2 separate regions of the Homo sapiens genome follow, and region 1 is linked to region 2. The links come from fine-mapping of genetic effects on gene expression. A gene starts in region 2. The other region holds a variant in brackets. All regions are shown on one strand. Distances are between the middles of the regions.

Region 1 (2,929 bases), 300 kb before region 2:
TCCCAGCATTTTGGGAGGCCGAGGCAGGCAGATCACGAGGTCAGGAGATCGAGACCATCCTGGTTAACACGGTGAAACCTGTCTCTACTAAAAATACTAAAAATTAGCCAGGTGTGGTGGTGGGCGCCTGTAGTCCCAGCTACTCGGGAGGCTGAGGCAGGAGAATGGCGTGAACCCAGGAGGCGGAGCTTGCAGTGAGCTGCTGAGATCGTGCCACTGTGCTCCAACCTGGAGGACAGAACAAAAGGCTTTCCAAAAAAAAAAAAAAAAACACTTAACACTTAATATTTGTGTGGAACCATGAAAGGCCTGAATAGCCAAAACAATTTTGAGAAAGAAAAACACAATTGGAGGCATCAGACTCCCTGGTTTAAAATTACTGTGTATTCCAAAGCTAAAGGAATCAAAAGAGTATTGTACTGGCATAAAAACAGACACATAGACAAGTGGAACAGAATAGATTCAAACTCCAGAAACAGATTCAAACTCCAGAAATAGAAACATATAAGGTCAACTCATTTTTGACAGGGACACCAAGAGGACACAACGGGGAGAGGAGAGTTCTTCAAACAAAGGTGCTGGGAAAACTGGAGGTCCACATGCAAAAGAATGAAATTAAATCTTTATCTTAAATCATAAACAAATATCAACTCAAAATGGATGAAAGACCCAAATATTTAAGATAAGAAACTATGAAACTCCTGGAAAATAGCATAGGGGAAAAGCTCCTGGGTATTGGCTTTGGCAACAGTTTTTTGGCTATTACACCAAAAACTCAGACCACAAAAGCAAAAATAAACATAGGAGACTACATCAAACCAAACACTTCTGTATGGCAAAGGAAACAATCAACAAGATGAATGAATTACCTACAGATTGGGAAAAATATTTGCAAACCATATATCTCATATGTGGTTCATATTCAAAATTTATAAAAATTTATATAACTAAATAGTGAAGAAACAAATAGCCTGATTAAAAATGGGCAAAAGACATGAATAGACATTTCTCTAAGGAAGACATAAAATAGCCAACCATTATACGAAAAGGTACTCATCATTATTAACCATCAAGAATATGCAAGTCAAAACCACTGTCAGATACTATCTCACACCCATTAGAAAAATCCTAAAGACAACAAATGTTGGCAAGAGTGTAAAGAAAAGGGAACTCTTACACACTATTGGTAGGAATATAGATTGGCATAGCCATTATGGAAAACAGTATGGAGATTTCTAAAGGAATTAAAAAGAGA[A/T]CTACCATATGCCCCAGCAATCTCCCTTTGGGCATATGCCCAAAAGAAATGAAATAACTACCTCATAAATATACCTTCACTTCCATGTTCATTGCAACATTATTTGCAGTAGTGAAGATATGTAAACAACCTAAGTTTTCATCAGTGGATGAATGGATAAAGAAACCATGGTACATATATGCAATGTAATATTATTCACACCTAATAAAGAATGAGATCTTGCCATTTGCCACAACTGGATAAGTCTGGAGAATATTATGCTAAGTGAAATAAGCAAGATGCAGTAAGAAAAATGGTGCATGGTCTCACTTAGATGTAGAATCCAAAAAAAATTAAATATACAAGGAAAACAAAATAAGTCTAGAGAGCTAATGTATAGCATGAGGGCCATAGGTAATAAAATTGTACCATGTAAGAGATTGATGTTAAATGAGTAGATTTAAGTGGTTCTTGCCACAAAAGCAAAACTGTGGGTAAATATTTGAGATGATAGATGTGCTAATTTGCTTCATTATAGTAATTTCTTTACTATCTTTATTTATACCACAACGTGTTTATACCTTAAATATGCACAATAAAATTTATTTTTAAAAGTCAATGTATAGCCATTTTTCAACACAGAAACTATAATTTAAGTTTGAACAATCACAAAGAGTATTGCCATACAAATTATATCGTTTCTTCGTCTTTACCTGTAGTGCAGCAGAAGTCTGGATAAATTTCAGAATGTATAACATGAGTTAAGGAATACACTTTATTGAGAAAATCTGTGTATGCCCAAGGTCAGCAAGCAAAGTTTTAGGAACCCCTTATCCTCTTATCATTCATTCCACAGAGAAATGTGCTCAATCTCTGAGCCTGTTAAATCATTGAGTCCCCTCTAATATGAGTTTCCTTTTTCATATAACAAGTATAGGGAAACAGTATCATCACTGAAGGAATAAACGAATGGATGGATTTAGGGTCCATCTATTTCCAAAGGTGTTCTGGAAATACTAGCATTTCAAAACCTAGAGATCTTGGATCTCAAGAAATCCTTCTGTTGGGGGAGGAAGCCTCAGGCCTATGGGAAGATGATTTGGTAAGGGAATCCCTACCTTCAATTTGCTAATATACAGGCAACACAAGGTGAGCATGTGAGGTCACTTTCAGCAATTCTTGTGGCAGCACAAGTCTTATAAAAACTCATATGAAAAGTATCTTTATTATTTAGTTATAACCATTACCATAATATTATCTTACACCAATGGTAATTTAAGACTAACAAGTACTACATCATACCATTGCAAATTTACCTGAACTTTCTATATATGGTACAATTTTAAGCTTCATATTTGCAAGAATAATAAGGTCACCTGGTGCCAAACAATCTTAACTGTCATAACCATTACTATACTTTGGTACTTCAAGATGATGGACCTGAATGAAAACGGATTCAAGGCTGCAGTCTATACTTGCCTCATGCAAGCAGGATATGGCTGTCACTGCCTTGAACCACAGAAAATCTGCAAAGTAATTATATAAAAAGTTGCTGGTTTTTACATCAGGAACATATAGTGTTTGGAGTCTAACTAGCTATTAAGTTATATATATATATATATATCGACCAATTAAGTATTAAATTGAATGAAGTCAAAAATGCTAACTAAATAACTGATTAGGATTCCAAAAAGC
Region 2 (2,929 bases):
CCTATAGTTTTCCTCAAATGGACAGCTCCTGAGTTCATGCACTTGTCACCCCGGCTTCTGCGTGGGATATAACTACAGGGATGGGGAGGGGAAACAGGAGATGGGCTAATACTGAATGCTTCCTGTTGATTAAAAAGGCACTTCAAACATAGCTGGCTGGGCACAGTGGCTCATGTCTGTAATCCCAGCACTTTGGGAGGCCAAGGTGGGCGGATCACAAGGTCAGGAGTTCGAGACCAGCCTGGCCAAAATGGGAAACCCCGTCTCTACTAAACAAATACAAAAATTAGCCAGGCATGGTGGCCTGCGCCTGTAATCCCAGCTACTAGGGAGGCTGAGGCAGAAGAATTGCTTGAACCCGGGAGGTGGGGGTTGCAGTTAGCCGAGATTGCGCCATTGCACTCCAGCCTGGTGACAGAGCGAGATTCCGTCTCAAAAAAAAAAAAAAAGTTAGCTATATCCTCCTGCAAATATGTATATAAAGAAGATATTTTAGTTCAAATTAGCCTTGGAAATATTCATGTAATTCTTTATTACATTTAGTTTCACACTAGGATGATTTCACTTAAATGATTGAAGGCATATATCTGGAATTAGCAGAGAATTCATGTTTAACAATTTATCATTATAAATGATAAATTATAATATTTATCAATTATAAGTTATAATAAATATTAAATAAACTATAATAAACCTATAAAATAAATTATAATAAATATTAATTATACCACAAAATCATGGCCCTATAAAACAATGACAAGGTTAATCAAATCTGTCTGTAAATAGCAAGACTCAATGGTGGCATTATGCCAATGCCCGAAATTACTATAAAAACTCCCAAATAACATTGTTATCCTTGTAAATGCTTCCTTGTAAAGACTGCAGTAGGTGCCTATTTCTTGGAGGAAGAGAACTGGACATTAAAAGAAAGGCTCTGCCTACAGGAGCTTCGAATCTACCAAAGGGAAGCTCAAATCCCGCCCAGCGGACCCGCCCGCTTCCCCTAAGCTTGCCTCCCGCCACGAAAGCTGGAAAGTCACTGGGGGCGGAGCTAAGGGGAGCTGCGAGAATTCCGGGGGATGTGACCGGACTGGGCGGGGCCTGTACCTTGGCCCTGCGCTCCCGTTGACGTCGCATCCTGTCAGTATTTCGCCAAACCTCCAGGCGCCATCAGTGTGTGAACCGTTACGCAGCTGGTCCACCGCGGGCGGAGAACAAGCGACTATGCCCAGGGATCCTGCACGCATGCGTGGAGCTGAACCGTCAGCGTGCGTGTGACGTCACCTGCGCGCCCGCCTAAACTCTTCCTAGGGTTCTTTCTAGAGTACGGGTGAGTGAAATTTGTAAGGTTTGGTGTGTTCATTTGAGTGGGTGCCAGACGTAACGGGCCCGGGATTGAATTAGTTTAGATCAAAATTTGATGTAATTATCGCAGAGAAACGCTTTCTTACGAGTGTTTATCTCGAGCCTGCTGTGTTCAGCATCTTTCTTGGTGTTTTGGGAGAAGCAGACAGGAGTTAAGTCCAAGTCCCCGCCCTCACAGAGCTCAGGTGGCTTGGGGGAAGGTTGGTGCGCAAACATTAAAATTAGATATCGACACTAGTGAGTGTCCCCGTCAAGAGGTCTGTGAAATAAGGTTGAGCCTACGATGCAGAAGTTAATCTCAGTTCAGTAATTTTTGTTTCTTCATTTATTTAGCGGGTGAAGGGAGGGGGCCACAGAAACATGTTGGAGTACGATGCTTTTGGTGCACAGTTTGTCTATACAATATTACAGCTCCCGTGGGGGTTAAAAAAAAACACGATTTTTCAGCCTCCCTCTTCCCCAATAAATTTTACATTTTAAAGCACAATGTTAAAAGCGTTTGTTAGTGACGTTACAGATCTTAAAACTGGCTTTTTGGAGGTACTTTACGCAGCTAAGTAGAAAATGGTTAAGTTTCAGTTCCTTGGAAGAATGTTTTGTATTGATCTTTGCAATAAAATTGTAAAATAATCCATCCTCCTGTCACCCCCCAACCCCGAACCGTGTTAACTATAATAAGGAAAAGCATAACTAAGTCAAAGAGACTTAAAGCAAATTATTGACTTCATTTTGGGTAAAACACTGGTTTTGTATTTTCAGCAGCAAGTTGTCAGATTCCCTAGTTGAATTTGCTTTGGACATCAGTGTGAAGCAGAACTGATATGCCACTTGAATTAATAAAGGAAGTCAATGGGGTGCCTGAAGTTCAGCCGCTGAGTAAATTACATAAAGTAGATTTCGGATCCCTACAGCCAGGTTACAATTATAGCAAGAAATATATTCAGGTAAGAATTTCTATAACTCAGAATGCTTTTTCCTACTAAAAGGAATGCAGTTTTTAAGTGTTGAGTTTATTTATGAGAACTGGTTTAGGTATGGTTTTTATCTTTGTCATAACATTTGAGATTGAATATTTCAATAAGTTATTCTTATTCAGTACTTATTTAGCGAACAATTATCAAATTCGTGTGTGAAACATTGGAGTAAGTTTCTGAGGTACAAAGATGAATAAATATAGTCCCGGAACTAAAGATAATCACATTTCTGTGGGGTCTGACAGATCAATCACCTGATCTCCAATTAAAATTAATAGGTGTGATATTAGCATTGTGATGTGTGAACATGAGAGAGCTTTTGGTTCTGACAGATCACGAAAGTTGAGCTGGAACTTACGGGATAACAGACTGTGCTGTACCTTCCTTTGAGGTAAAAAGCAGTCCTTATGTGCATGTTGAGGAATTTGGATATTACTCTAAAAGCTATGGGAAGTCTTTAGTAGGTTTTAGCAGGAGAAAGACATGATTTACTTTGAGTTCAAAAAACTTTGCTCCTAGGTAGAGAATATATTGGCGAATGCAAGATTAGAGGAAAGATGTTTAGTTAAGAGGCAATTACAGTAATTTAG

Evidence for each region. PIP is the estimated chance that this variant, and not a neighbour inherited with it, causes the effect.
Region 1: its variant is fine-mapped to the expression of POT1-AS1 in blood mononuclear cells (TOPMed, PIP above 0.99).

The regions. Positions count from the first base shown.
Region 1 is chr7:125,225,396-125,228,324 of GRCh38, reverse strand. The region is part of intron 3 of LOC101928283 (a long non-coding RNA gene); the gene reads right to left. Among named protein-coding and RNA genes, the nearest start is that of LINC02830, 73 kb to the right of the region's middle. The variant A/T (reference allele first, on the strand shown) is at 1,256.
Region 2 is chr7:124,928,195-124,931,123 of GRCh38, reverse strand. POT1-AS1 (POT1 antisense RNA 1) reads right to left here and starts at 1,251. Exons shown (of 8, transcript NR_125719.1): 1 at 1,108-1,251. It overlaps POT1 (protection of telomeres 1), which reads left to right and starts at 1,299. Exons shown (of 19, transcript NM_015450.3): 1 at 1,299-1,330; 2 at 2,125-2,309. RefSeq lists enhancers at 1,015-1,309, 1,064-1,363.